Linked DNA regions of Homo sapiens. The protein of the gene in region 2 interacts with the protein of the main gene of each other region in a pairwise test. Each region holds a gene or a part of one and is shown on either strand. Other genes may lie near its edges.

What was found. Proteins that work in one complex are often made in the same cells at the same time.
Region 1: the proteins of SIGLEC12 (region 2) and TMPRSS4 interact in binary tests that used the Homo sapiens proteins (3 or more experiments, as listed by UniProt).
Region 3: the proteins of SIGLEC12 (region 2) and PTCH1 interact in binary tests that used the Homo sapiens proteins (3 or more experiments, as listed by UniProt).

What each region holds. Positions count from the first base shown.
Region 1 is NC_000011.10:118,100,886-118,108,085, reverse strand, and holds part of TMPRSS4 (transmembrane protease serine 4), read right to left. Parts: intron 4,986-7,200; coding exon 4,833-4,985; intron 3,396-4,832; coding exon 3,266-3,395; intron 313-3,265; coding exon 211-312; intron 1-210. UniProt on the Homo sapiens protein: Plasma membrane-anchored serine protease that directly induces processing of pro-uPA/PLAU into the active form through proteolytic activity.
Region 2 is NC_000019.10:51,498,762-51,506,579, forward strand, and holds the start of SIGLEC12 (sialic acid-binding Ig-like lectin 12 isoform a precursor), read right to left. Parts: upstream 3,040-7,818; 5' UTR 2,973-3,039; coding exon 2,546-2,972; intron 1,633-2,545; exon of another isoform or gene 1,613-1,632; coding exon of another isoform or gene 1,540-1,612; coding exon 1,159-1,539; intron 956-1,158; coding exon 677-955; intron 457-676; coding exon 409-456; intron 1-408. UniProt on the Homo sapiens protein: Putative adhesion molecule that mediates sialic-acid dependent binding to cells. The sialic acid recognition site may be masked by cis interactions with sialic acids on the same cell surface.
Region 3 is NC_000009.12:95,478,259-95,485,458, reverse strand, and holds part of PTCH1 (protein patched homolog 1), read left to right. Parts: intron 1-3,255; coding exon 3,256-3,325; intron 3,326-3,418; coding exon 3,419-3,510; coding exon of another isoform or gene 3,511-3,514; exon of another isoform or gene 3,515-3,632; intron 3,633-4,870; coding exon 4,871-5,069; intron 5,070-5,368; coding exon 5,369-5,490; intron 5,491-6,311; coding exon 6,312-6,459; intron 6,460-7,200.

The DNA of each region.
Region 1 (7,200 bases), on a different chromosome or scaffold from region 2:
CATTGTATTAAAAACAAGTCAACACAGAAAACCTCTCCAAAATGTGAGTCTATAGCTCTTGGCATTGAATGATCCATCTGGCTAGGAGTTCTTCCTGATGTCTGCTTACATTCCCCTGGCTGCTTGGGGTTCCAGGTGAGCTGGTTGCAACCTGAAGAGCAGCGTCCATGTGGGGGCCTTCTGTAGGCCAGAAGGTGTCCCCTCACTTACCCACTTGAGTTCCGCATGCGAAGCTCCTGGCTGTTTTCTGTGATTTCAACAACATCCAGATCCTGGTCTGGGCCAATCTCCACAGCTCTGAAAGTGGGTTTGCTGCTCACATCAAGAGGGAGAGAGAGTTGTGAGCTGGGGCAGGGGGTTAGAACAAGATGGTAGAGTTGGCCCCCACTTTCAGGAGAAAGAGTGGCAGAGAATGCTTGGTGGGGAGTGGCCAGGGAGTGGAGATGGTCTTAGTCAGTGAAGATGGGGCCTGCTTTGCTATACAATAAAGAACCGACCCTTGGCATCCCAGGACTCAACCCTCAGTGCATTGCTGATGTAACTTGCTTTCTTGGGTGGGGAATCCAAATCCAGAACCCAGAGCCCTGGAGAAATGTTAGGGGTCTCCTTTCCATATTCCCAGCTCTGTCCCTATTTCAAATATCCCAGCAATGTCTTCTGGTTCACAGCAGGGAAACAAAGAGGCATAGGGGCTCAGGTTAGCTCCCTTCTCACCTGGGAGGGAGTTGGAATGTGGATATTTCGTTCTCCAAACAAAGCATCTGGTCTGACTTTGATAGCGGGGGTATGTTTTTGGCCCCCTTAGAGATATTTAATAGAACAGGACTAGATCTGTCTTCATATGAATCCAGACAAACGTTTCTCTCAACTGGACCACTCTCCCTCTTTCTCCCTGCTAATCCATGCTTGCTACTTTCAAACCTTGGGTTGAAGTTTTTCCTCCTCCAGGAAGCCTTCCTTGATTAATTCCATCTCTCTGATTGTTCCTTTACTGAATCTGCCTCTTCTAAATCTTTTCCTTCCATCCCTAACTATGCTAGTAATGTTAGTAGAAGCTCTCCATGGAGGGCTGAGTCATTGGCAATACTGGTGGATTGGCACATTCTCAGGCAGGAATGCTGGCACTTCCTGGAAGGACCCAAGTCTCAGACCTGGGAGGACTAGAGTGCATTTTAAGAGTCCTCATGATCTAGGTTCTGTCCCTGGCTCTGGCACTAGTTTGATGTGTGGCCTTGGGCAGGTCATATTCTTTTTCTGGGTCTCTCCAAGCCTCAGTTTCCCCCTCTATAAAAAGATGCACGGGGCTGGGTGCAGTGGCTCACGCCTGTAATCCCAGCACTTTGGGAGGCCGAGGTGGGTGGATCACCTGAGGTCAGGAGTTCAAGACCAGCCTGGCCAACATGGTGAAACTCGGTCTCTACAAAAATATAAAAATTAGCTGGGCATGATGGTGCGTGCCTGTAATCCCAGCTACTTGGGAGGCTGAGGCGAAAGAATCACTTGAACCTGGGAGGTGGAGGTTGCAGTAAGCAGAGATGGTGCCATTGCACTCCAGCCTGGGTGACAGAGTGAGACTCTGTCAAAAAAAAAAAAAAAAGATGCGTGGACTAGATGATCCCTAGGGTCTCCCACATCTTGAAATGCCTATGGTTCTAGGACAAGAAGGGCCTCCGATCTAGAGAGAGGAAAGAAAGTAGAGAAGTCTGAGACCTAGAAGGACGGAATATGGTGGAAATGGACATTCCCAGGAAAGTTAACTTCTGTTCACCAATTCCATCCCAATGAATGATTCTGATGAACTTTGATTTTGTGAAGCACAAGACTCAGGTGGTTTGGTGCCTTACTGAGCTCCAAAAGGACAGAAATTCCAGGAGCCTATCATCTTAAGAACCCCTGGAGACACCCAGGTTTCATAATCAAGGCTCAGCCTGCTGTGCCAGGAACGGCTGATGCAGCAGTTGACTGGACTACAGTGGGGAGGCAGGGCTGGCTGCAGCGAGGCTGGGCTCCGTGGCTGCAGGAAGAGGGGAGAATAGCAGGTGCTGGGCATGAGTTCCTCACTCTCCTTGAAATGAAGGTGGTGGGGTGTGCTTTCTAGAGGGTAATGGAAGTTGCCCCCTATGGAAAGTAGAGAGCAGCAGAAGCCCGTTGAGCAGAGAAGAGAAAGGCAAATAATTCTGATTGATTTGTAATGGCTGCCTGGAGCATTTACTGAAAAGGACTTTGAGGCTGTATTAGGGATCCATGGGAGAGAGTTCTGTGATTGGTTGGTGATGTCTGCCTAGTAGAGTTTTTGTTTGTTTGTTTGTTTGGCCTAGTCTCTGGGTCCAGTCTGTTAGAATCCTGAAGAAATCTGAGGCCTGCCAGAGATAGGCTATCTCAATCTGCAACTGAATGTATGGGTTCTTTTCCATCCTCTCCAGCTAAACTCTCTGAGTGATCAACCATCTCATTAGCCCCTTCCCTTAGAGATGATGTCCTACATGAGAATAAAGAATTACTCAGTCTAGAAACAGAAACAATGTGGGAACTCCTAATGCGCAAGAATTAGGGGTCTTGGGCTCAAATTCTAGCCCTCTACCTCCCAGCTAGTACCCTAGCAAGTTACTTACTTTGTTTGAGCCTATTTATGAAATAGATATAATATATATCTATATATAAGATATAATAACTATCTTTTTGGTTTTCTGCCAAAATCAAGTGAATATAAATATATAGAATGCAAATTACTCTTACTATCATCTTACACCTTTTCATCCACTCCAGATTTGGAACTGCTTTTGAAATTTGCAGAGAGAGCTGGGATTGCTGAAGATGGGGCCCCACTGAAACTAGGCTCACTTAAGCTAAATCTTAACTAACGAAACTTTGAATAAGTTAACTTAGCTTTTGTATTACTGGGCAGGAACAGTTTCTTGCAAAGCCAGCACAAAGGAGTGAAGGTTGAGGAGTAAAGGAAAGGAGAGGACTGCATAGACGCTAGAAGTGTGTGTGTGTGTGTTGGAGGGCAGCACACATTCTCTCACTGGCATTGCAAAACTATCCTATGAGGTTGGCATTAGTTCCCCCAATTAACTCCTGAGGAACCTGAGGCTTAGGAAATTTAACTTCATGTTGCTTATAAGTGAAATGCTGGGATTCAAAAGCCATTCTGCCTGGCTCCAATGCCCGTAATTTTTAGGAAAGAGAGAAGAAGGGAGGAAGGAAAGGAGGAAGAGGAGGAAGGAGGAAGGAGGGAAAAAGGAGAGAGGCCCAGGTTGGTTACCTGCTGTAGCCCATCTGCCTACAGGCTGTCTCAGCGAGAGCTTCTGTGAAGTTGTCGAAACAGGCAGAGAACCAGTTCCCTGTGGCCGAGTCCAGCACCTGCAGTGTGGATCGGTCCTTGGAGAGGCGGACTGGGAGGAAAGGAACCTGAGTTAGATGGAACGGGGGGCCCAACTGGCCCATCCCCCTCAGAACTCATCATGAGACCAGCCCAAGCTCCCCCAACCTAGAACTGGGGGTGCCACAGAGCCCCAACACTTTCAATGTCAAGGGAATTTCTTCCATTTGGCTTTGTCTATTTGGGCCCCATTTTGACAGTAGCTAGTGTGACCAGAAGTCCCAGGGTAGGTCTCCATTTTGACCTGTTGCCCTGACCCAATGGTTAATAGTGCCCCCTTTTGCTCTTACAGGTATCAGTTTTGATGATCAATTATGTGGTCACTCTACCCAGCGACCATATACAGCTTGTTTAAATTGTATGGACCACATACCCATCCATGGTCCACACAACTTGCCCAGCCTGGGGAAATGTCTGAGAGAGGGACCTAAGTCCTTCTCCAAGTAAGGTCAGAGGGGAAGGTTGAGTGAGAAGTCCTACTGGCAGTAGGATGACAGGTGCCTGTGGGCATTTGACTTCTGATAAAGAAAGAGCAAATACACAGAAAGTCACTCAGCCCTGCCCTCAGAAGCCCCATCACTCATCTCCTACCTATCTTTTTTTCTTCAGAGCCCAAGCACCAGGGGGAAGAAGGTAGAAGAGCCCAGCCCAAGAGAGAACGTGGATTTTATGCTCAAAACATCTCCTATCCATTGAAAGGACCTGGCTCAGTCCTGTCACATAGCATGTCTCAGCAAACACTAATGAATAGAAGGACCAATAGCTGGCGAAGTGGCTGAGAAGTCTCTTTTCTAGTCTCCTTGAAATAACAAATTTCATAGAAAGGAGGAATGCCCCAAGGTCACCCAGTCTAGCCCTCTGCCTGAAATCCACCAGGCGCAGCACGCATGGGGCAGCCTCAGTTACAATTTCCTGTCCTTTCTGGCTCACATTTGGTCATCAAATAGTTACTGTTTGCTGTGTGTTAAGTACTAGGATTTAAAGGTAGACAAGACAGGGTCCTGCTCTCAAGAAACTTACACAGCTGGGCACGGTGGCTCACGCCTGTAATCCCAGCACTTTGGGAGGCTGAGGCGGGCAGATCACCTGAGGTCAGGAGTTCAAGATCAGCCTGACCAATGTGGCAAAACCCCGTCTCTACTAAAAATATAAAAATTAGCCAGGCGTGGTGGCTGGCACCTGTAATCCCAGCTACTCATGAGGCTGAGGCAGAAGAATCACTTGAAACTGGGAGGCAGAGGTTGCAGTGAGCCGAGACCAAGACACTGCACTCCATCTTGGGCCACAGAGCACTCTGCCTCAAAACAACAACAAACAAACAAACAAAGAACCTTATACAACAAGGATGAAAAGTGACAAGTAGGGGGCAGATACTATGCAGTGGGCCGTGGGGGCCTGAGCAGACCTCCTGCTGGGCCCACTTCTCTTGTGCCTCAGACCCTGCACTCACCTGCCACTGCAGGCCCTTCGGGGAAGCTCTTGACACAGTGCTCCTCGTCCTCCCCCAAGGGACAGTCCAGCTCTCCGTCACACAGCTGCTTCCTCGGGATGAAGTGGAGAGGCTGCCCGCAGAGGAAGTAGTATTTATCCAGAATCACCTTGACTGGAAGGCAAGTGCAGGGAGAGGCAGAGAGGGCTGAGGGTCAGGCTTGAGCAGGGAGACGCTGGGTTTTCCTGGCGATAGTGCTGGGCTCTCAGACACGCATGTGTGAGTTCCAGGCTCAGTTTTGCTACTTGGTAGCACACAGACTTGGGCCTGAGCCTCAGCTTCCTTGTCTGTAAAGTGGAGATAGTAACACCGGCCCCACCCCCACAAGATGTCTGCGGAGTCAAGAGAGGTCACGTGTGTGGGAGAAACAGGCTGGTAACTGCCTCTTACCCTCCAGTGCTCGCTCAGTATGTACTGGTAAAAGAGGAGGAACCCGGAGTCTGAAGACCCAGTTCTGAGTCCTAGCCCTGCCACCCACTGTGGAACTTAACTTTTTTCTTTTTTTTGAGACCGAGTCTCACTCTGTCATCCAGGCTGGAGTGCAGTGGCGGGATCTTGGCTCACTGTAGCCTCTGCCTCCCAAGTTTAAGTGAGTCTCCTGCCTCAGCCTCCTGAGTAGCTGGGATTACAGGCACATGCCACCACACTTGGCTAATTTTTTGTATTTTTAGTAGTGACGGGGTTTCACCATGTTGGCTGGGCTGCTCTCGACCTCCTGACCTCAGGTGATCCACCCGCCTCGGCCTCCCAAAGTGCTGGGATTACAGGCGTGAGCCACCGCACTCGGCCTTACTGTGCAACTTTATATGGATCGCTTTCCCTTCTTAGTTCTCAGTTTCCTCATCTGTACAATGGGATGATGATATCTATAATATCTGCCTCGCAGGGCTGTTGAGAGCATGTGGTATGATGGTAGTCATGAAAATGTCTCGTAACTATCAAGTATAGTTCTAGAATTGGGTGCTTTTACCTGGGTGAAAGAACTGTTAAATGGTAAGAACACATGGACACGTGCAGGGGGATCAACACACACTGGGGCCTGTCGGGGGGAGGCGGGAGGAGGGAGAGCATCAGGAAATATAGCTAATGGTTGCTGGGCTTTATACCTCAGTGAAGGGTTGATCAGTGCAGCAAACCGCCATGGCACACGCTTACCTACGTAACAAACCTGCACATCCTGCACGTGTACCCCAGAACTTGGAATAAAATTTGAAGAAAAAAATAATTAAAATATATAAGTAAAAAGAACTAAAATTAAGAAAAAAAGAGAAAGATCTGTGAAGGGGTTGGTCCTCGGTTTTGTTTTGTTTCTGCTCGCCGTCTTTAGATTCTGCCAGCTGCTTTCAAATTCTGTTGCTCTTTTGCCATTTTGGGATGATGGAAAGATGTTGAGTGTGTTTAATCCTTCAGGGAACTGATATTTTAACACTTTTTCTGGCCATGCATGGTAGTTCACACCTGTAATCCCAGCACTTTGGGATGCCAAGGCAGGAGGATTGTTTGAGCCCAGGAATTCAAGATCAGTCTCGGCAACATAGTGAGACCCTCGTCTATACGAAAAATTAAAAAAAGAATTAGCCAGGCATGGTGGTGTGCCCCTGTGGTCCTAGCTACTTGGGAGGCTGAGGCAGGAGGATTGCTTGAGCCTAGAAGTTTGAGGCTGCAGTGAGGTGATCACACGATTACACTCTAGCCTGGGAAAGAGAGCAAGACCTTGTCTCAAACAAACAAGCAGACAGACATACAAACAAACTTTTCCTTAGTGAAGACCCACAGCCAAACACCCTGGCAGGAGGGAACTCCTCCTTCCTAACTGAATTCTGTCTTGGCCTGATGGGACCCTCTCCAGTCCAGTATCACCCTGGGCTGGTCTTAAGAGTAGTGGCGTTAAATCTAATAATGGTCCCTGCTTGTCACCGTGTCAGGAGCTTTCCATACATTTCCTCACGTAATCCTGACAACAGTCTTGGGAGGGAAGTGTTATTACTAACTCACATTACAAACAGGGACGTGGAGAATTGAAGGTCAGGCTTTATTTTCCCAGGGCACACAGTGCTTCCAGTGTAGAGCCAGGGCCCATCTAATTCTCTGGGGAAGCTTGAGATGTGATCTGCTGGCCCTGACACTCCTGGCTTGAGTGAAGCAAGGGAGAAGGAGGAGCTAGATATTACTTAGCTCTTTGGAGTTTGGTTTATAATCAGGAGCCAGGGTAAGGCAGAGTCACTCCAGCCTCCTGGGACAAATCCAGGAGACAGCATTGCCAGTTGAGACTCCAGAAGCCATAAGGTTGAGGGAACCCGGCCCAGGATGGAGGACTGGGTAACAACCT
Region 2 (7,818 bases):
CTGGACAGACCCTGGTCGATTCTGGGGACAGACTCTGCTGTGCATTATAAATTTTTGCCCATGTGACTATAGTATGTATCCAAAAGAATATACCTCAGAACTATTGGTGAAAATAAAAGGATGAGGCAATATTCAGGAGCTGGAAGATAAGAGTCCTCAAATCCTTGAGCTGCTGTGTGAATGTCCCTCTACCCTTGCTGTGGGGCCAAAATAGGTGTGTGTGTGGAGGAGTTCAAGGGGAGTGAAGGGGTGATGAGAAGGTGCTCAGGTGGCCAAAAGGCTGAGGCTGAGGGAGGGGGGGGCCGGGGCTCACCCACAAAAGGGTCTCAGGTCACCAGGGTGAGTCCTGGCTCTCCCCTGAGTTGAAGGCTCTGCTCCTCCAGCCCCAGGGAGAGGACTCCATCTTACCTGTGCCATCTCCTTGGAAGACAGTCATGGTCAAGTTCTGAGGAGGATCTGGAACAGAAAGACACGGAGTTCCCATCACTTTGAGGACTGGGGACACTGACCCTGTCTCCCCAGGAGCCCCATAAATGGGGAAGGTGGAGCCAGCATCCTCCTGACCCCCAACTCCCAGCCAAGATTCCAGGACCCAGATCCTTGAGTCTGGGTCCCACATCCAACTGGCCTCAAGGAATCCCGATCAAAGACCCAGACGTCCTGGCCCAGAACTCACAGGATATGTTGAGTCGGACAGCCCTGGTCATGGTCACGCCGGCCCCAGGCAAGGTCACCTGACAGGTGAGGCTGGTGCCATGGTCCTGGGGCTGTGGGATGAGGCTGAGCATCGAGGAGCGAGTGATAGTGGGGTCCAGGGAGGACACGGAGGCCCCCATCCAGGTGATCGTGGGGGGCGTCCCCTGTTCACAGGCCCAGGGCACAGAGCAGGTCAGGTTCCTGGGGTGGCCAGACTCCAGGGTCCCCGGGATGGAGAAGGTGGGCATGTGAGTCAGGGCTGGTGATGAAAGGGAGACAGGCAAAATGAGGGTGTTGGGGTCTGAAGTGTGGTGCTGAGGAGGCTCAGGCTCTGGTCTTACTCCTCCCCTGAGCCAGATATGCTTCACCTCCAACTCCCTCCCAGGATGGGGGTCCCACCTCAGCCCTACCCTGCGGCCCTCGGGCCTTCCCCTCTGGCTGGTCCTAGAGCCAGAGATTTACCTGTCACATGCACAGAGAGCTTGTCATATATGTAGTTCCATTTCCTGCTTCCTCTCTCCACCTGGAAGTAGTACTTCCCTGAATCCCCCTTCCTGGCATCTCTGATGCTCAGGGAGCAGTTGTTGGTCTGTGGGTCCCCAAGGAGGAGGAATCGACCGTGGGTATCCTCTTGCACTTTTCCACTTGGGGTGTTTGTGGCCACTGGAATATCCCATGGTATATCGGCCCCTTCCTTGAACCAGGATCCATAAACAGGGCTAGAGGCAGTCCAGTTGTAATGGGGGTAAAGGACACTGCAGGGCACAGAGACACACAGACCCTCCTGCACAGTCACCGACTCTGGCACCTCCAGCCTGTATCTTGACAGTAGGTCCTGGGACGCTGTGGAGAAACGAGGGTCAGCCCAGCCCCCACTGTCCCTCTCTTCATTTGCCCATAGCAGGGGCAGCAGCATCTCTGAGGCAGAGGCTTCCTGGGCTCCCTGTGTGAGCAGAGAAGGGGGAGGGAGAGGAGGGGCAGGGCTGTGGGACCCACAGGGGGCTGGAGAGGAGCTGGAGACCTCAGCCCTGCATGGAAGAGAAACTGCAAACCCACATGCTATAGGAACTCATTCCCTCTGCACAGAGTGAAGGAAACCCTAAAGCTCAGAGACCCTAGAGACCCACCCAGGGAGGAGAAGAGACCGTGTCCCGCCTCCTACCTCCGGGCTTCCCTGAAGCACCAGGGCCTGCACCAGACACGTAGGTCCTGCCCTCCCGGCCTCTGGACCATCGTGGAGGTCCCTCCTGTCTTTTGAGCATCTAAATGTGGATCTCCGAGGACCTCGGGGCATGAGAGATGGAGGGGCCGTGTGCTGAGTCTCCCTGTCCAGGCTCAGGTGCCTCTGCTGCCCTTGGTTTGCGCCAGGAAGTGCTTCCTCCCTGGCCTGGCCTGAGAGAGTCACGGGGTTGTGTAGACCTAAGGCTCTCAACTGGGGAGGACTTAACCCCCCAGGACGTTTGACAATGTGTGGAGATAATTGTCTCGCTGCATGGGTGGGGTGGGTGCTTCTGGCATCTGGTGGGGAGAGGCCTGGGATGGTGCTAAACCCCGGCCATGCCTAGGACAGGCCCCAAAACAAGGAGTCATAAGGCCCCACATGCCACAGTGCCAGCGTCAGAGGCAGGATGAGGATGTCAGGCCTGTGGGTCAGGGCTGGTGAGGGGAGGGGCTTGCAGGATCAGGAGGGGCATCCAAGGTGCGGTCCTGGGGAAGCTCAGGCTCTGGTCCAGCTCCTCCCCTGAGTCCATCACCCCCGGCCCCCTCCCAGGACATGTGTCCCGTCTCAGCCGTGCCCTAAAGCCCTCATCACATTTGCCTTTGGCCTCTCTTGGAGCCCGTGCCTTACCTGTCACATTCACAGAGAGCTGGTCATATTTATAATTCCATTTCATATTTCCTCTCTCTACACAAAAGACGTATGTCCCTGCATCACTCTCTCTGGTGTCTCTGATGCTCAGGGTACAATCCTTGTTCTGTGGGTCCCCAAGGAGGTGGAATCGGTCCCGAGTCTCCTCCTGCACTGCTCGAGCTGGGTTGTTTGTGGCCACTGGAATGTTCCGGCTTACATGGTCCCCTGCCCGGAACCAGTAGCCATGAACTGGATCGGAGGCAGTCCAGCCATTTTGGGGGTAGGAGAAGGAGCAAAGCACAGAGACACACAGGCCCTCCTGCACCGTCACGGACTTCTGCATTGTCAGCAGGTAATCCTTCTGTTCCTTAGCCCCCACTCTCCCACAGAGCAGGGGTGGCAGCAGTAGCAGCAGCAGTAGCATGTGTCGGGTTGGAGGTGCCAGGGTTGCTGAGGTAAGTCTGTTCCTCAGGGTTCTTCTCTCAGGAACTGAGAACTCAAGATTTCGAGGAAGCCGCACAGGAAGTTGGGGGTGGGTTCTGAACGGTGACCTCACAGGAGGAACTTCACACACAGACACTGTCAGGGCCGGGTCACCCCTGGAAGATCCACCGTCCACTACCCCGTCCACTCCTGGGGACCCTGAGGCCAGAGAGGATGAAAGACTCACCCAGATTCCAACCCCATGCAGGGCCCACCCCGCCCACTGCCTCCCTCTCAGTGCCCTTCCCCTTGGGTGATATTTTCCATAAGGTGAAAATGAGTCCCATGTGGCCAGACCTATGAAGTACAGGCTGTGGATGTCTCTCTGTAGGTCAGAGGTGACACTAGGATATAAGAGATGGGGGTGCAGGTGGGATGAGCAGGCAACCTCTCCTTCCTCCCTCAGCGGCCGTGAGGTGGAGTTCAACACAGCAGAGCTAGACACTGTCCCCAAAGAGTCACTGTGTAGTGGGGAGACACTGAGGCTCCTGATATCTGAGCTCTCCATGGCAGGAGCTTCAGTGGGGGTACCAGGCAGGGTGTGGTCGCTCTCTCCTATGTTGGGGAATCAGTCTCGGGAGGACTGAGCAGAGAGACACGGGGTCGTGGAGGTGAGGATTCCGTGTGTTGATACACACCAAAGACACAGAGAAGAGCCCAGTTCACAGGAGGCCTGAGAAGCTAAGGCTGTGACTGTTGTACAGTGAGGTCTGGAAGGGAGGAATGTTGGATGGGAAGGGACAGATTTCTAAAGGGGCAGGCGTTTCTCTCTCGGCCATGGCTCTCTGGGTTCAGGATGGGATCCTTCACCACTGCTCTCTCACAAGTCCTCCTTACTCCAGAGCATGAGGGGTCTGCTGGCCCTTTGTTCCTGCAGGCTCTGCTCCCAGGGTTTCAGGTGAACAGGAGACGTGGAGCGAGGACACCAGCCCTGGCGTGTCCACGCTCAATGATGGACAGGATTTCATGGGAGAAGAAATGCACCTGAATTCAGCAGAAGAGTTTTTGAAACTGTATGCTATGTACTGGGAGGAAGGTGGGGAAAATCCTGCAAGATTCGCCCTCCTTAGACCCATGTCAGCTTTTCTTGAAACAATGATTTTTGGGGAAATGTAATACAAGTAAATAAAAGTGCCACCTAAAAAAATGACTCAGTGATTTTCACCAAATTATCACTGTTCAAGAAATAGAACATCACAAGATAATTGCCAAATTTCTCCCATGAGATGAAGAAAGAAATTGCATTCATTTATTCAGCCCTGTGTTTCCCCTTCCTATAGGCCACATGCAGTTCCTCCTGAAGATGCCCCAGCCTCACTTTAATGATAATGGTCTCCTTGCTTTTCTATGTAGTTTTATCATCTGAGTGCACTGCCTTCAATACTATGGCTTTGCATAGGTTTTTCTAAAGACTATTTTTACATAAAAACCACAATCTGTTTTATTTTACTCAGCTCCATGGATCTTCCCATCCCCATGTTGTCCCCAATTGCCCATAACCTGGAGTAGAGTCAGTTGGCTGTGATAATTGAAAAGGAAATGTGCAGGATTGGGGCATGCATAGCTGCTCCTCTCCCTGACACCACTAATTCCTGCATTTGCAGCTTGTATCTCATCCTGCAGACCAATCTGCTCCTGGGCCCCCATCCTTGCCGTGTCACTTTCTTCCCGTAAGGACAGTTGCAGCATCTCAATGGGAAGAAGGGCTCGACCACGGCCCATCTCTTTCCCACAGTCCCCAGTTGGCAAAGAAAAGCAGAAAAATGGGAAGGAGAGACATGAGGAAGCCACAGAGAATCTGCAAAGGAAGAACGTTTGAACCACATATGACTCAGAGGAGCTGATGGGCCCTCTAGACCCACTTCCATAATTTGGAGAGGAAGATATTAAGGACCAGAGTGACAAGTGCTACAGCTACATGTCTCTCCTCAAAATTCATTTGTTGACCTTTGAACCCCCATGTGATAGTATTAGAAGGCATGGTGTTTAGATAGGTGGTTTGGATTAGCCTAATAGGATTAGAGCCTGATATGGTTTGGATCTGTGTCCCCACCAAATCTCATGCCGAATTATAGGCCTCAATATTGAAGGTGGGTTGTAGTGGGAGGTGGTTGGATCACGGGGGTGGATTTCTCATGAATGGCTTAGCACCATCTTCTTGGAGCTGTTCTTGTGAGAGTGGGTGAGTTCTAACAAGATCTGCTTGTTGTCTGTGTGCAGCATCTCCCCATTTGCTCTATCCTGCTACTCTGGCCATGTGACATGCTGGCTTCCCCTTTGTTTTTTGCCATGATTGTAAGTTTCCTGAGGAACTCCCCAGAAGCCAAGCAGATGTCAACATCCTGCTTCCTGTACAGCCTGCAGAACCACGAGCCGATTATTCCTCTTGTCTTTATAAGTTACCCAGTCACAGGTATTTCTTTATATCAATGGAAGAATGAACTAATACAGAAAATTGGTACAGAGGAGTGGGGCATTGCTACAAAGACACCTGAAAATTTGAAAACAACTTTGGAACTGGTTAACAGGCAAAAGTTGGAAGAGTGTGGAGAGCTCACAAAAAGACAGAAAGATGAAGGAAAGTTTGAAACTTCCTAGAGACTGGTTGAATAGTTATGACTGAAATATTGGTCGTGATATGGACAGTGAAGGCCAAGCTGAAGAGGTCTCAGACGGAAATGAGGAACTTATTGGAAACCAGAGCGATGGTCCATTTTGTTATGCCTTAGCAAAGAACTTCACTGCATTGTGCCCCTGCCCTAGGAATCTGTGGAGCTTTGAGCACAAGAGTGAAGATTTTCAGTATCTCGTGGAAGAAATGTCTAAGAAGCAAAGCATTGAAGACATGGCCTGGTTGCTTCTAACAGCATATGCTCATGTGTGAGCAAAGAAAGAAATCACTGAAAGCTGGAAATTGTATTTAAAAGGGAAGCAGAGTGTAAAAGTTTGGATAATTTGCAGCCTGGCCAAGTGGTAGAAAAGAAAAGCCCATTTTCAGGGGAGGAATTCAAGCAGGCTGTAGTCCCAGAGACCCCAACATTGAAAACAGAGGCTCTTTTTTCCTGGACAATGGGGCCCGAGGTTTGTCACAGACATGTGGCCCCACAAACAAGGGCACTCATGAAATTCTCACCATGCACCCATGCTCATTCTCTCCCTTGCTTCATACTCCTGACTCAGCCAGGTCCTTCCAGCTCCGGCTTCAGGGATTCTGCTCCCAGGCCACCCTCCCCCAGGGCTCTCCCTTCCTCTCCAGGGTCAATGCTCACACGATGAAGATGACACAAAAGGACAGGAAGACCAGGCTGGGGCTCCAGCCCCCCTTGACCGCCTGCAGCATCACTCCTGGAGGGTTCTGAGCTCTGCAGGTGAATTCCCCTTCGTCCCTCAGATACACTTGAGGCAGTTCCAGCAGCCCAGGATTCAAGGGCTGTGAGAGGCTCAGGGTTGGGCTCCCCCAGGTCCAGCTCAGCCTGGCAGGGGGATTGCTGTCAACAGCACAGACCACATACAGGGACTGGCTTTCCAGGACTGGAAGGGCTGAGCCATTCCCCAAGGTGGTGGATGCTGTAGAGAAAGAGACAGAGGGTCAGAAAGACAGTGATCAAGACAAGGAGGAATGATACAGAAAGAGACTGGTGGATGGAACAGACACTGATACAGGCTGAAGTGCAGGGCCATACACACCTTCTCAGCTCACTGTTGGGAATGTAAACTTGCCCACTTTTAGTTGAGAACAACTTCATTTTATTAAAATTAGAAAGAACGTATAACACTGCTATATTTTGCTTTTAGGAACTATGCTATACACTCAGATATTGCTTGTGGAAGTAGATTTATGATTATTCATTACAGTGTTTCTGCAGTACGATAAAATTAGTGCCATGATTTTCCACTGGGAGATGCTACACAATCAGAGTCCATCCATGCAGTGGAATCACACACAGCCCTAGAGGAGGGTGTGGGCAGTCTCACTATTGATATTGGAGCACCTCTGAGATCCTCCAGGTGAGCAAACCAAGGCCCAGGGCAGCCTAGATGGACGCTGGGCGATTCTGGGGACAGACTCTGCTATGCATTTTGAATTTTCACCCATGTGACCATAACATGTATCCAAAAGAACGTAGCTCAAAACTATTGGGGAAAAGGAAAGATGAGGTAGGTGGTGTTTTCAGGAGATGGAAGAAAACAGGCCTCAAAGCCTGTGTTGTGAATCTCCCCCTGCCTTTGCTGTGGGGCTGAGGGGTGTGTGTGTGGAAGAGTCTTAGGGGAGTGATAGGGAAGTGTAGAGTCATCAGCAGCTTGCAACCTCAACATGGAAAAGCTACAGGCACTCATCTCCAACCTATGAGAGCAGCCACGTGGCCTACACCTGTCAAAGCCACAGGCAGAACTGCCCACGGCCTTGGGAGCTCACCCCTTGCACCAATGTGCCCAGGATGTGGGACACAAAGTCAAAGATTATTATTAAGCTCTAAGGTTTAATGTCTGCCTGCAGGAATTTGGATTTACATGGAGCCTGTTGCCACTTTCTTTGGGGCAATTTCTCCTTTTTGGAATGGGAATATTTCCCCAATGCCTGAACCACCAATGTATCTTGGAATTAAATAACTTGTTTCCTATTTCACAGGGTCATAGGTGGGAAGAACTTGCCTTGAGTCTCAGATGAGACTTTGCACTTTCAGTTGATGCTGGAAAGAGTTCAGATGTTGGAGGACTGCTGGGAAGAAATTATTGTATTTTGCAATGTGAGAAAGAGATGAGATTTGAGGAGCCAAGGCAGACTG
Region 3 (7,200 bases), on a different chromosome or scaffold from region 2:
TCTTGGCACTGTCCCCAAAAGAGGATGACGCTGAGCCACTTGGGGACTATACACCCAGGCTGTAAGATGTTTCATTGCTTAAGAGATTTTTGGAGAGTGATATTTTGAATTGCCCTTGCTGAACTTAAAAACAATGCGAAAAAGAAGAGCTGCTTCTTGTGACTTTGTACTCTTAGTTGTTTTGTGTCACACAGCACGTTGGGGGCTGAGCCACCATGGGAATTGTTGCTGACACCTTTTTATTTATTTTTTTGAGACAGAGCCTCACTCTGTTGCCCAGGCTGGAGTGCAGTGATGTAATCTCGGCTCACTGCAACCTCTGCCTCCCGGGTTTAAGCGATTCTCATGCCTCAGCTTCCCAAGGAGCTGGGGCTAGAGGCGCCCACCACCACACCTGGCTAATTTTTGTATTTTCAGTAGAGATGGGGTTTCACCATTTTGGCCAGGCTAGTCTCGAACTCCTGACCTCAAGTGATCCGCCTGCCTCAGCCTCCCAAAGTGCTGGGGTTACAAGCGTGAGCCACCATGCCTGGCCCGCTGACACCTTTTTAAAAAGTCATGTTTTAGCATCGTATTGCTAATTTCACAATGCTGTGAGTAGAGTAAAGCATTAGGAAGAGTTCAAAACTCGGTCCTTTTTCTTATGTATCTAGACTGTTGGTTACTACAGGGCAGGGGCCACCTCTTGTCTGTTTTCACCCCAGCATTGAGAACAGAGTGGGCATTCAGTTTGTTGATTGCTTTTGAGGTTGGCATCACTAAACCCCATTTCCAGGGGACCTCTGAGTTGATGTCACCCAACCCCATCACCTCCCCTAGGCTTTCAGCACCTCTTCACTGAGGCCTTTGTTAGTACTGTTTATTTTTCCTGGAAGAGGTGAGGAAGTAGCAGTATAGGCATATTCAGCAGCCAGGGAGAACCAAAGAAGAGAATAAAATTAAGATTTTTCTTGTCCCTTCTCTAACCTCTGCTTACATTCCAGCTCGACAGGATCCTAGGGACAAGCACAGCCAGGGTCGAGTCACATGTCTTTGGCACATTCTTGTTTGTTTATCTGTAACCTGGGCTTATGGTCATGTGTGCTCGTATCCTTCATGGTTCCCAGAACAAGACCAGATACATGAATGCAAGGGCCTTAGAAAATGTAAAATCATGTTTCTGCCAGGCAAACTTGCCCTGTTGGTCTGTAACAAGTATTGTAGGGAAGCAACTACCTGGTACAGTTTTGCAGAATGTGAAGTGGCATCCCTGTGGGGAGCCAGGTTGTCCTGGGGCCACTGCAAGCATGGCCAATGCATTCTTAGTGTTTGTCACCTACATGCTTCAGGAGAAGATGTGAGGGTCTGTGCCATTAAATTACACTCTTAAGCTGAGATGGGTCCAGAGTAATTTTATGCATTGGAATGAACTTTAAGAACATGTAGTTCAACCCATCCCATGTTTTAGGTGAGAAAACTGGGAATTAGACTAATTAGAGCATTTGTCCAAGTTCATGCAGTTATGAAATGAGAGAGCCAGGTTTCAAAGCCTTTTTCTGGCTTCAAGCCCATTCATTTTTCTAATGCACAATGATGTCCTTCTCAAGTGTAAATGAGAGTTGATCAAGTAATATAAAGTGAGAACCTACTCATGCCGGATAGTCTATGTTGATGCTGTATAGAATTAAAATATAAATATGTCCATGGATGTGTGGCTAGGTGGAGGATGGCGGAGATATGGGTAAGTTAGGCACAGCTCTCAAAGAGAGGAAAGACATCAGTATAGATAGACATGGACAAAGGAAACGTGGGCGGTCCCCATGACAGCTGCGCCAGGTTTCAGCAGGAGATCTGCCCAGCCAGGGCTCTAGAGTTCAGGAGAAGGGGGTCATTTTCAACAAGCTTAACATGGGGGTGACATTTCAACAGGGCGCTGAGAGACAGGAAGGCACAGGGAAGAGGACACAGTAAGCTCCTTGGGTGAAGACAGGCCTCCCTTAGGAGGCCAAGAATAGAGCAGTTGGGAGGGAAGTTTTTACTGTGTTTCTTTCTTTTTTTTTTTTTTTTTTCCTTCCCTTGGACTTTTCCATCCCCACTCTTCCAGATTTTCTTTTTTTTTTCGTTAGACTGATCTCCCTAACACACCTGGAAAGATATGGGCTTATATAACACTTTTCTAGAGACAATAAAACTCCCGATTAATTCTTTTTTTTTTGAGAGATAGGGTCTTGCTTATCTAGGCTGGAGTGCAGTGGAGCAATCACAGCTTACTGCAGCCTCGAACTCCTGGGCTCAAGTGATCCTCCACCTCTGCCTCCCGAGTAGCTGGGACTATATATGTGTGGCACCACGCCTGGCAATTTTTTTTTTCATTTTTTTGTAGAGATAGAGTCACTCTCTGTCACCCAGGCTGGAGGGCAGTGGCATAATCACAGCTCACTGCCTCAGCCTTCCAGGATCAAGTAATTTTCTTGTCTGTATAGCTGAGATGACAGGCATGCACCACTGCGCCCAGCTAATTTTTAAAGTTTATTTATTTATTTATTCATTCATTCATTTCATTCATTCATTATAGAGATAGGGTCTCACTTTGCTGCCCAGGCTGATTTCAAACTCCTGGCTTCACGCTGTCCTCCTGCCTGCACCTCCCAAAGTGCTGGGATTACAGGCGTGAGCTGCAGCACCCAGCACTAAATTAATTCTTGATCTGTATATTTATTCACATTTCTGTAAGATAGGAATAGAAGAGACTGTGAAGTTAGAATTTGACCCACCTGGCACATGTTGTTGTTTATAATATTAATGGTTAAGAGCAGGAGAGTTCATTTTGAATACTACCTATTAAGGACATGATCTGCCAGTAAAACATCTCCGCACCTGAGTATGTGTCAATACTTTGCAAACCTAATTTAATCCCCGCCTATTTTGAATTTATGATAATTCAGCTGGGCTGCCCTGAAGTTGTTTAATGTATGTAGAAAAGCAGATTAATGGTGTAAACAAGATTATTGGGAGAACACTTAAGAAAACAAGACTTTTCAAGTACTTTGGTAGCATTCATTTACATAAACACCCTACATGTTAATTACGATTGAGTATTATCTATTCATTAAAGCAAGCTTGCTGGGTCTCTACTTGGCAAAAGCTCTGCTCGTTTTGACAGATGCTTAAAAGTGATCGAAATTGCAGTTCTTTTTATATGTTCTATCATTTCGAATTTGCACTAATTTTCTTATTACAGTGAGAAATTTTTGTCTCTGCTTTTCATTTTATTAGGCAGTGGAAATTGGAACATTTGTGTTACAAATCAGGAGAGCTTATCACAGAAACAGGTTACATGGATCAGGTATATTTTCTTCTTGTTGGCAAAAATTTCTCAGGAACACCCCAGTAGTGTGCCTTAACCTAACGCATGGCCTCTTCTTTTTAACTTTGACAGATAATAGAATATCTTTACCCTTGTTTGATTATTACACCTTTGGACTGCTTCTGGGAAGGGGCGAAATTACAGTCTGGGACAGCATACCTCCTGTAAGTGTGTGATCATGCTTTCTGATGTCTGTGACTTCTCTAGGACTCAGTGTTTCTAATGTTGCTTATCATTGTTTGTTCCATTTCAGTTTTGAACAAGAAATAAAAACATTGAAATTCCATGTGCATTTTTTGAGTGAATAGTCGGGGGAGAGGGGATTTCAGCAGAATGTTTTTTCTCTTTTCAAAAAACAATTCTGTAGGCGTCATTAAATTTCATTCACTTTTACCAACCTATTTATATGCAAATAAAATGCAAATTATTGCAGAGTACGTGTGATTTTTTAACTCTTTAAAATGTTCGTAGTTTCGAAGACGAGGCATTTAGACACTTATTTTTTAAGGAGAGACTTTATTAGTGAGTGGGTTCACATCAGAATGAAATATTTTGAGTTTGAGATCTTCCTGTGAAGTAAAAAGCTAACCTTTCTTTAGATCACACTAATGGCATTTAAGGGGGAAATCCACTATCTGTGAAGGCCACAGTAGGGAATGTTTCACCGTTTAGCAGTTGGATATTATATATACCGCATCATTTAGAGAATAATTGTTAATCAGCATAGACATTTTCAGTTAATTATGCAAGAGTGAGAGCTTGGGTTATTGTTTCTGTCCTGGCTTGCACATATCTGCAAAAGCAATTTGCAGTGGCCATCCCCTGACCTTCAGTGTACAGTTTTAGATGGGAAATAAGGGGTTTTGTGTTTTCTGGTTGGGAGATTCCGAATAATGACTTCAGCCTGGTTAAGCAGCTACAGTGTGGTTTGAACCACATAACAGGCAGCCAAAAGCCTTTCTGGTCTGTCAACAGCACAGATTCAAAAGTGAGTGTGGGGGGAAGTGGCTGTGATGGTGGTGATGGCAGAGGCTGCAGGGGGCTTGCCCATTCCATTGCCAGGCTGTCAGAGAGCGCTCATAAGTATGGGATTGTTAAAGGTAGCAGAGATCAAATATTTTGATTGATGACATTTACAAAGTATTTATTTGGCTGCCAAGTGCTAATTTGATATTGTGACGCCCTCTTTTTTAAAAAAAAAAAAATTTAATTTTGGATCTGTCTTTTTGGCTAATTTTGTATGTAGATATTAAATATACAATATCAGCAATTAAAGATTATTCAGTGCCCTCATTAACTTATGAGTCCTCTCTCTGCTTAGCATCTTCAGTCATGAATTATTTTCCTGACCTAAGTTTTTATGCAGATATGCTGGAAAGGAGCATTTGTTTTGATGCCAGAGTCCCAGAACTGCAGCATTGCCAGGAACCTCCTACAAGGTGGATGCAGTGGGCGCAGCCGTGTTACTTTACGATGCGTTTAGAAGGCTCTTTTCATGGTCTCGTCTCCTAATTTCTTTTGCAGAGGTAAACCTCCTTTGCGGTGGACAAACTTCGACCCTTTGGAATTCCTGGAAGAGTTAAAGAAAATAAACTATCAAGTGGACAGCTGGGAGGAAATGCTGAATAAGGCTGAGGTTGGTCATGGTTACATGGACCGCCCCTGCCTCAATCCGGCCGATCCAGACTGCCCCGCCACAGCCCCCAACAAAAATTCAACCAAAGTGAGTACCAGCAGTGAGCGCTCTCAGAAGGGTGGAGAGCAAAACACTTTTTTGTGTCCATTCATCGTTCACTTTATTATTTTCATTTTTAACATTTCATTCTCCATGATCGTCTTTGTCTATGGAACTAAGTTTATTTATAGAGCTAAATTTTGCTGTAAGATTTGCCATACACCTCCCATTAGCCTTGCTATTAATGTTCTCTCTGAAACACACAAGCCCTTAATGCACTGGATTTTAACAAGGCATGTGACCTGCCTACTAATTCCCATAATTATGTGGCTGTCTTTTTATTTTAGCCTCTTGATATGGCCCTTGTTTTGAATGGTGGATGTCATGGCTTATCCAGAAAGTATATGCACTGGCAGGAGGAGTTGATTGTGGGTGGCACAGTCAAGAACAGCACTGGAAAACTCGTCAGGTAAGCCAGCTCCCGAGGACAATCTATGCCCTGTAGTCTTCTTCCTTTCCTCAAAAGCCACTTCCCTCCTGACATCGGCAAGTGTATTTGTATTAATACTTAAACCGTTATCCTCGCTAGCCAGGTGGCGTCATAGAATATTAAGAAATAGTAGCAGACTGCAACAGCTTGAAAAAGCACCTTGTGGGGAATTTTTCAAGAATGGATTTGTAGTTTTCATCAGGACCATAGTTCCTGACTATAGGGTTTAAGGAGATCTGCCCATTAGGTAGAGAATGGGAGCAGGTGTAAAGTAGGCCGGGACACACTGGTCAGAGAGAGTTGGTGGTGCGAGCTGCACAGTGTCATAGACTGTTAGCAAAAGATGGAGAGCCAGCGGCTCAATAAGAATTATCCTTTGTGCACTTGTGGACTCTGGTCAGTCAGGTGTCTGGCGTTTCGTGTAAGATTTCTCCCTTGGGAACGCCACCGTCTGGGATTTCTGCACAGCAAGTATGCGTCACTGAGCCCGGTGTATCTGTTCAAGCTATCTGCTCCTCTCCCCTTCCTGTTTCATGGAATGGAAACTGTGAAAGGAAATTGCCTATTAATTTAATTTTGGGGTATATCTGTAAAAGGTTTGTAAGGTTATACCTTTAATATGGTACATCAATCTATTAAATAAAATAACCATCCTGGTCCCATTTTAATGGAAACATGTGCTCACAGAGAAGGAAAAGAATTGCAGCCAGTGAGTTGGGGGAGCTGGCTGGGGATTTGAGGCAGTGGAAACTGCTTCCTGGGAATACTGATGATGTGCCTTCCCTTGGACTGTGCTGCAGCGCCCATGCCCTGCAGACCATGTTCCAGTTAATGACTCCCAAGCAAATGTACGAGCACTTCAAGGGGTACGAGTATGTCTCACACATCAACTGGAACGAGGACAAAGCGGCAGCCATCCTGGAGGCCTGGCAGAGGACATATGTGGAGGTAAACCCACCTTCGAATCGGCGTGCAGACTCGCTGGTTATGCAATTCTTCATTTTCACCATTATTTAAAACATTTCTTTCCATTCGCTTTATTTTCAAAACATTGCAATTCTGGGAACTTGATGGGATGAAAACTTTTTTCCTCTTCTTTGATATTGAAAATCCTGGGATAATATCTAAAAGACTAGTTCTAATTGGGGTGCCCTGAGACATGTTTAGTAACCAGTTGTGAATTCCAGAACTAAAGCACATAACAGTGTTTAAAAAAACACTTGGTTAGCAAAGGTGTCTGGAAAACATTAGCAAGGCATAGAATCTGTTCACAGCTGCAGGCCCCTTGGTCAGGTCATGTGACAGGAGCTGGCCTTTGTTTCCCAAGCAGTGACCTCTACTGAGCTGCATGTGACCTTTTAAAAGTGGCCAGCAAATGAACAGGGGGAGGAGGGCCATAAGAATGAGTTGTTTTGGATTAGTGGGGAGCCGATGGGACCGCAAGTCAATTGTGAAGTTAACGGAGAAGAGACGAGCAGTCTCAGCCCTGGAGTAAATACAGCACTCAGAGTGAACTCCAGCGACACCAGCCCTCAGCAGCACCCACTGCCACTGATTAGCCATGGCCCTTGTCCTAAAACAGGGTTCTTTAATGTTAGCCCAACTTCAGCTTCTCTCCCTGCCCTGGAATCACGTAGAACTTTTTTAAAAAATGCATCAGAAAAAAAGAAGGGCTGCGCTGTGTCACCT